2 linked regions of the Homo sapiens genome follow. The protein of the gene in region 1 purifies or fractionates together with the protein of each later gene. This does not show direct contact. Each region holds a gene or a part of one and is shown in the gene's direction. Other genes may lie near its edges. The genes, in order: OR2H2 and LRRC8D.

Region 1 (4,236 bases):
TGTTCTTGATTCACTGTCTTTGCGGTAAGAGGTGTAGATTCAGGGCTTCCACTTCAATCTGTAGCTCGTACTCCACAGACTAAAGAACTATGTGGGGATTCTGCCAATGGCCAAGCATGTGCATTCCAGTTACAGATTTAGAGACTGCAGAAATGACTACTGGGTAGATCCATGGACCTAGTACATGCCATTTATTAGCTGATCTCATAGGCTCCCTTTCTAATGGAAGAGAAGCATAACGATTCAGTTATATGAAGATTGGCTAAATGTTCTAAGTACTCTCCAAACCCAGAGCTTTATAATTCTCTGTTACTACAGTGTGCTCCATCTCAGAATAACTAAATAGAAAAGGAGGAAGCTGAGAACTTTAAAAACTGAGGTCCTGAATAGATGAATCATAAGCCTGAGAGGACTATCAGGATGCCCGGGACTCACTGGAGGTGGGAGTAGAGACACTGTCCTTTTTCTTCCTGTTGACAGAAAGAAGCAATGAGTGACCTCTTTTACCTACCACAGTGATGACTATTGTTGGCATATTTCCTATAGATATTCCCCTGCCCCTTTTACCATAATTTGTGGCTAATGAATTGTCTGTGGGCTATGGACCCTAGAGTCTCAGCAGAATTAATGAGCTCTTTCCCTCCGTGGGATCCCTCTACCACCATACCATGTCAACATTTCTACCTCCAATGCCACTAAAACAGAGGCACACCTCTGCCTAGACTGAGGGGGAAAATTGTTGGCAAAGAACTCAATGGCAAAGAACTCGATGGCAAAGAACTCGATGGCAAAGAACTCAATGGCAAAGTTCTGACCTTGGCTTCATCCTCCCTGCAGAGATTTGGTGGGCTTTGGTTGGTGCAAACCCTCTACAGTTAGCAGATTTGGGTTCAAACATCAGCTCTGGTGCTTACTAACTATACTGCCTTGGGAAAGTTATTTATATTTCTTTGTTTCAACTTCTTCATATTGGAAGGAAGAGAATAATATGTAGAGTTGTGAAGGATAATCAGCAGTGTAGAGTAAATGTTTAATAAACAACTTGGTTGGTGGCAGATGGGGAGAGCCCTAATTTGTAGTGTTTGCCAATTTTCATAGTGTAAATATTCCTGCCATGGCTGTCTCAAGCCACTGATGGTTTAATAACTGTCTCACAAAATTCCTAAAAATTTACTAATCAAGAGATAATCTGAGCCAGCTCCAGCTCATCACACACATGTGTGCTTAGAAAAGTGCCAGATGGTCAGCATTAGCAATCCCTATTGTGACCAGAGATGCAGTTGCCCATTCAAGGATGCCCATTCCTTTTTATTTTTTTGTTTCTTCCTGATGTACAAGTGGAGGCTGGGCACCAGTTAAGAGCTCTGTCATGGGGAATTGCTGGTACCAGAAGAGATTTTTATTTGATTGAAGGTAAGCAGAACCTTTGCTCTTTGGCTGTGAGATATCAGTTTCCGCCTATCCTCAACACTGGAGGACCAGATTTGGAGTTAAACTTACTCTAAAATCCTAGTCCTAGCACTTATTGACTAGGTAACCTTCTACAAGTCTCTTGTCCCGTCTGTGACTGTTCACTTTTTGGTAAAATTGGGATAATTTTATCTCTTTGTAGGGTCACTGTGAGAACCAGATGTTCAGGGAGTTGTTTATCACCATGCTTTGATGGTAGCTACTAACAGCAAGGGTAGCTCATGGTCACTAGACTATCATAAACCCCTTTCAAAGGACCTCCCAACTCCTTCCCCAGCTCCTAACACAATGCTGGCACTTTGGGGCTCAAGAAATGAATAAATGCGTAGACCAATGCATGAATATTTCAGAAGGAAAAGGAGTAGGAGAAAAATAATGAGAGTGGAAAAGACAGAGAACAAAGAGGGAAAGGGAAACAGTCACTAAGAAAGGTGTAATCTAAAGAGATTCAGCGATATAGCAGAGAAAGGAAAGGAATGAAATGCCAAGATAATGACAAAGTTAGAAATGTAGAAAATTAATTAGGATGACACATGATGGATAAATAAGAAACAATTGGCTATTGTTTAAGGTTACATGCAAAGAATTTTATATTACAAAGAAAACAAAGGAGGGGGCGGCAGCCAATGAGCATGAGGTTTCTTTTGGGAGTAATGAAATATTCTGGAAGTAAATGGTGTTGGTTGCACAACTTGTGAATATACTTTAAACCACTAAATTACACACTTCAAAAGGGCGAATTTTATGGTACGTTAAATACATCTCAAAAAATGAAAGCGAAGGCATAATTAAAAATTTAGAGGCCAGGCACAGTGACTCATGCCTGTAATCCCAGCACTTTGGGAGGCCGAGGCAGGCAGATCACCTGAGGTCAGGAGTCTGAGACCAGCCTGGCCAACATGGCGAAACCCCGTCTCTACTAAAAATACAAAAATTAGCTAGGCATGGTCTTGAGTGCCTGTAATCCCCGCTACTTGGGAGGCTGAGGCAGGAGAATAGCTTGAGCCCAGGAGGTGGAAGTTGCAGTGAGCAGAGATCGTGCCATTGCACTCCAGCCTGGGCTATAAAACGTGACTCTAAAAAAAAAAAAAAAAAAAAAAAATTAGAATGGTGGTGACATCTTGAGGGGTGACAAATTGAGAAAATTGAGAGATCAGGGAGGGGCACACAGAAGCTTCTAAGATACTTGAAACATTTGCTCAGTTCCTTAACCTAGTTGTTTAAATATGTAACAATATTTTGAAAATTAAAAATATATTTTAAGTGAGAAAAGAATAATGGGAAAAACAGGAAGAAGACAGAGACAATGGCAGAGAGTCCTGGCAAAAAGGGAGATGTGATAGAGCTTAATACAAGATGGGGACCCTGTAAGAGGAAGACATTCCTGCCATCCTCTGAGCTCCATGGCACGTTTGTGGTGTGGCCCACCATCTCATCTCCTCCCCTCATGGCCTTCCTAAGGTCCTGTAAGACCCTGAGTCCTTGTCTCTGACCTGCCAGAGTGGCTTCAGTCTCCCACCCCCAGCCCTCAACTGACCTTCTATGCCCCAATACATCTCTATTTTAAGGAAAAAGTCCAGTCACCTCCTCTAGGAAGCTTTCCCTGATATACCCAACCAAATTGGTCAGTCATCCTACAGAACCTTTACTCTCATTCACCCAGTACATTGGTGTTACTGGCCTTTAAATTTTGGACTCTCTTTTTGGTGGTGTCTGAAAGACTACAAGATTTAGGGAGAGTGATTCTTGGAGTCTTTCGATAATGTTCCTGTGAACCCTGGTGATTTTAACATGCTTGTGGCCACTCTTGCCTCCTACTTGTAAGCTACTCATGGCAAGGACGAAGCATGTGGACCAATTTCCACCCCTCCCTGAAAGTCAGTTGGTTCAGAAACTTAGGTTGCTAAAAAGGCCAGGGCAACCAACCTGATCTCTCTATAAGTAGGGATATCTTAAAACAAAACAAAATCTCTCTCATAGATAAAACACTGTCTCTGATAAGCTTACTTGCAAATGAAAAAATACAAAATAAATGGAATGTACAGAGTTCTATAAAATTCATTCAACCAATAGAGCAATAATTGAGCCTACAGAGACAACTTATCAGAAAATTCATTCAATATACCTTACGAGATCATCCAATAGATAAGAGACAACTCTAGAACAGCATTCAGAACATAGTGGCACTCAATAAATTTCCCCTGAATGAATGAATTAATGAATTAGTGCATATTTTAATCAGCCTCCTTTGCCCTCACCCAGGAAGTCAGAGGCACCAGTGTGAGTATCCATCTGCTGTCCAGTACATTCATGGATTCCTCACTCTCACTAGACAATGTTTGACCAGGAAGAACAGGGAATGAGAAGGAGCTGCTGGATGGTGATGAGCCTTGGAAAGGGAGGCTGGGCGAGCAGAGACAGAAGAGAAACACCTACCTGCTGTGACCTCACAAACACCCAGGCTGAGTTTTGATAAGACAGGTTGAATCACACTGGAGTGACAGCCTCATCCCTCCAGGTACAAACAAGAACAGGCCATGGTTAACCAAAGCTCCACACCGGGCTTCCTCCTTCTGGGCTTCTCTGAACACCCAGGGCTGGAAAGGACTCTCTTCGTGGTTGTCCTCACTTCCTACCTCCTAACCCTAGTGGGCAACACACTCATCATCCTGCTGTCTGCGCTGGACCCCAAGCTCCACTCTCCAATGTACTTTTTCCTCTCCAACCTCTCCTTCTTGGACCTCTGTTTCACCACGAGTTGTGTTC
Region 2 (4,599 bases), on another chromosome or scaffold:
AGCTCACTGCAACCTCCGCCTCCCAGGTTCAAGCGATTCTCCTGCCTCAGGCTCCTGAGTAGCTTGGATTACAGGTGCGTGCCAACATGCCCAGATAATTTTTGTGTCTTTAGTAGAGACGGGTTTTCACCATGTTGGTCAGGCTGGTCTCTAACTCCTGACCTCGTGATCCTCTTGCCTCGGCCTCCCAAGGTACCGGGACTACAGGCGTGAGCCACTGCACCCGGCCTATAATTTTTTTTTTTTTTTACAAACAGCAAAACATTCCATATTCATTATAATAGTGGGCTGTTTTCAATAAAAATATCACACCACTAGTTGTTAAGTTTTAAAAGACCTCTCATCTCTTAGATCAGCAAATCTGACACTGATTAGATCACTTACACACACTCCCTGCCCATACACCTCCTTCTTGGCAGTGTGTGGAACAGGAGTGGCTGCTGGCAAGGAGGGTCGGGGAAGGAAAGTGAGAGCAAAAGGGCCGAGGGCTCAGAATCTGGTGGCATCTTGTAACGGGTCTCGGGCAGTCCCTTGAGTGTATTCTGGACCTCTCTGTTCATGTTCCTGTTTGGGCTGCTCTTCTTCACGTCCAATGCCTGAGGGCCAAGTGCTCACCATCCAAGGGTCAATTCTATCAGCTCCTCTCTGAATCCTTTTCTGAAACCCTGGACAATCATTCTCTTTAATGTCTCACTGTCTCTGAACCGACACCTTCCTGAGTACCTGTAACATTTGTGCAGCATGCTTATTAAGAATATTTAGATGCTGGGTAAACGTTGATTGAACATTTGCTGACATGGAGAGATATTGGTAGAAGACAGATTAGACTTCCGATGGTTTACAGAAACACATGGATTCAGATAAAAGAAGATATGAAAGCACTGGGTTGAACCACATATTTTATTACAACCAAATAACTCCAAATATCCCGCCTTAATTTATTTATTGGCCCCTGCCTCTGCTCACCCACAAAAAAGACTGCAAATGAACCCCGATCCTACAACAACAACAACAAAAAACGGTGACATTATCGGGCTGCAAAACCCTCTTAGCATAGAATAATCTTTTCATCTGCCTCTTTCAGATGTAACATATTTTTGACGAAAAGAATGGGATGAAAACGGCGGGCTCAGATAAAAACAAGAACCGACTTTCCAATACAGCTTCAATAACAGACGGAACACATGAAGCTGAGAAACTCTCCATGCCAAGTAGTAGTTGTGTGTGCCCCAAAGCTCAGATAAGTACTTCTCCTTAGAGTTGGAAGGCACTTAAGTGACTTTTTAACGTAATTCAACTCCCCACCCCCAGCGCCAAGTCTTAATATCAGAGTTTTAGTCGACGGGACAGCCTCCTTCGCCCAGGACGGGTGAAGGCTCCTGACCATGCCTCGCAGCTAACTGGCAGCTGCGCCTGCCCGGCACCGAGCCCTGCCCAGGTGGACGCTTGCGAGAGCATTACGGCGATGGTTATGTAGGCTGCCGTTCTTCCCCTCCCAAGCACCTGCTCCGCATCTAGCAGTCGCTCGCCGCCAGTCTCCAACCCCGGGTCCCCTCCCTCGCCACACAGACCCCGTCCGGTCAGGCGCTGCAGGGCCACCGGAGAAAGCGCTCGCAATCACATGGAGGCCCGGGCCCGCCCCATTGGCTGCGGCCGGGCCAGTCGCGGCACTCGCCGGCTGCGGTTGGTCCCAGAGCTGCAGCGCCTGCACGGGCCCGGAGTCCATGTTACGCTTTGTCTAATTCCCCTCGTTACAGAGTCATGTGCTGCTGCTCCCGTCGCCGCTGCTGCCGCTGCCGCTGCCGCCGCCCGTGGTGCCCCGGCTCCTCCGCCGCGCTTCGAGGTGGCAGCCGCGGGCGGGGCCGCGGGAGCAGGGTCCAGGGTGCAGCGCGCCTTCGCCGCCCCGGCGCGTCCCGGTGCAGCCGCCGCCCGCCGCGGGTGATGCCGCCACCTCCGGCCTCAGCATAAGCCGTGGCTTGGCGGCCGAGCTGCACCCCAAGGTTGGTGCGCACCTCTCCCGGCAGGGGCCGGGGGCTGCGAGGGAAGGCGACGCGCAGGTGGAGCCGCGCCGAGCCGGAGCGCGCAACCCTGGCGCAGGCGCCGCGGCCCGAGCTGCGGTTGCGGCCGGGAACTCATTCGGGGACGTCCGGGGGTCGGGAGGAGGTGGCGGCGAGCGGAGTGGGCTCCCGTTTGCTGCCGCCAGGGCCTGGGAGATTGTTCCGCTTTCTGCAGTCTGAGCGTCGGCCGCTTCGGCCCCGGGCGGCCGGCCCTGCGGGAGGGGAGTGCGGCTTCCTGGCTCCTGAACCCCTCGCGCGCGCTCCCTTCTCTCACCTCCCTCCGCCCTATCGGAAAGGCGGGGAGAGCCGGTTTCGGCTCTGCTGGTTCCTCCCGGAGGTGGGTGTTTGGTGTCTGGCCTTGCTGGCCCGGCGTCCAAAGGTGAGCCCTTTAACTTCTCCAGAATCGCCTCCCCTCCGCTTCCTTCCTGTGCAGGGTGGGCTGCGCTGGGAGCCCGGCGGGCGGGGGCGGGGAGGTGAAGGCCCGCGCCCCGCCCCCCGCGCCTGTGGGAGGGAGCTGGGGGCCCGCAGGTGCACCCAGCCGTCCGCGGGCCGTCTCCGGGTTGGGTACCGGTATAATCCGCTTCTAGCTTGTTTGGAGGCGTGGGCTCTTGGGAGCGGGACTTCTGCTCAAATCCTGTCCAGGGGCTTGAAAAGGAGGAGAATTGGGGGTGGTTGCCGGGAGGACCAGCACCTCCAGTTACTGGAGGGTTGATAGGGGCCTTCTCCTTTCCGTCACCCTTTACTAGGGGGTATCCCTTGCAGATAAATGAGATTTTTTGATTTCTTAAAAAGCCAGCTGCAGTGAAGAAGAACTGCTGCAGGTCGAGGGGAAGAGAGGTAGGTCCTTGCTGGAGAGGGAGAGGTGGGCTGTGAGGTTCCAGGAGCACGCACTTGGGGTGTGTGTGGCCGAAAGTATGGAGGTAGGGTTGTGGGAAGGAAACAGCCGAGATGAGAGGGAGGGCGCACTCAGGATGTAGGCGGAGAGATGGGGAATAGGTACTGGGGAGTCCTAGCGGAATGTGGGGCCCAGCTGGAGCCGCTTGGCTTATATTTGGCTCCTCGTTGCCTCGCAGATTTCCTGCTCTTGGATCTTCAAAAATATTTTTTTGTTGGACAAAGAAAACTCTGAGGACATATTTTGGAAGAGCTGATTTCTGGAAACTTTCCTTGGCAGCTTTGATAGTAAAATTCCGTACAGGCAGCGTTTATTGAGCACCTATTACGTGGTTTGTACCGGACTTTGGAAGAGTCTGGACAGGCAGGGAATCCCCGTTTGCAGTAATGATGAGGGCTGTCTACCTTATAAACAAATAAGGGGCCCCTCCCAGTGCCAAGAATGAGAGTGATCAGACCTTCCTCGCCATAGCATCTGGGACCTCTGCTTCTTACAGACCTGTGGGAAGAACCCTGCACCATATCCTGTAAATGGGGTCCTCAGGCAGCATTTATTTTTGCAGTCCAAAAATAGTGACCAAACACCTACTGTCAGCTAGGCGAGAGTTGGGGTTCTTGCTTCATCTGTCTTGACACCAACTAACTAAATCCCTGTTAAAATCCAAGTGCAAGATGGGGAGGAATCTGAGATGAAAATTAGGTGGTTAAAACAGGGGTCACGAAAAGTTGATTTGGGGTGTTTGGTCTCTGTAGGTTACTTATGGAGCCCCCCATAAAATGATTAGGTAATCTATGGAGCCAGGGAAAAATTCCAAAATCTTGAATTGGCACAGTTTATTTATATATTTGAACACTATGTTAGATTTGTCTCGTTTTTATTGAGAGTGTATGTGTGCGTGTTGATTAAAACCTAACAGATTAGAAGGTTGGAGAGGAAACTGTCCTTAGATGACCCAGCCTTCCATTACCATGTGGAGTAGCATATGATGCAACACTTAAAGTATTGAGCCATATTCATATCATTTTCTCCCTGCTGTGTTTTCCAGCATTTAAAAAACATGGTCAAAACTTGGCCCTTTTTTTCTCAAAATCGCTAAAGTTTAATGGAAAGAAAAAAGAAAAAAACTAGGCCCCTTTTCCCTTAATTTTTATATTATGCAGCATTTTTAAAAATTAATTTTAGAAAATTCTGATGTGTTTGTCATGTCCAAATAGTTAAATTGTTTTGGTAGCTATAGTTTGGAAATTAGACTCGATTCTGTTCTCAGTACTGTAGACAAAATAGCTATTAAAGTCAAAAGTTTGTCAAAACTTTGTAATCATGATTATTATGTTGTTGAAGTGGTAGCTTGTAAGAGATTTCAGTTATTTTTAATTGGAGCTGGTGTTTGACATTCTAAGAAACACCAGTTAATATTTGTTGAGTGCCAGCAGGAAGCAGAGAACTGGAGTGGGTGCTGTGGGATCTTAACAAGGCAGGAGAGGATTCTCGTAGTAATCACAGAGAGCAGATAAGACAGGCACACATGAGGATGCCAGCAGAAGCAGACAGTTACAGTTGTCTAAGAATCCAGGGTGTGTGGAACCAGATAAAAGTTTATGAAGTATGCTGAGGGAGGAGTGGAAATCTGAATTGACTTTTGACAGT

The links.
Region 2: the proteins of OR2H2 (region 1) and LRRC8D purify together in Homo sapiens (affinity purification with mass spectrometry; one large-scale study listed by BioGRID and IntAct). This does not show direct contact.

What each region holds. Positions count from the first base shown.
Region 1 is NC_000006.12:29,583,938-29,588,173, forward strand, and holds the start of OR2H2 (olfactory receptor 2H2), read left to right. Parts: upstream 1-1,183; 5' UTR 1,184-1,413; intron 1,414-3,732; 5' UTR 3,733-4,007; coding exon 4,008-4,236. UniProt on the Homo sapiens protein: Odorant receptor.
Region 2 is NC_000001.11:89,819,292-89,823,890, forward strand, and holds the start of LRRC8D (volume-regulated anion channel subunit LRRC8D), read left to right. Parts: upstream 1-1,740; 5' UTR 1,741-2,000; exon of another isoform or gene 2,001-2,503; intron 2,504-2,647; exon of another isoform or gene 2,648-2,894; intron 2,895-4,599. UniProt on the Homo sapiens protein: Non-essential component of the volume-regulated anion channel (VRAC, also named VSOAC channel), an anion channel required to maintain a constant cell volume in response to extracellular or intracellular osmotic changes.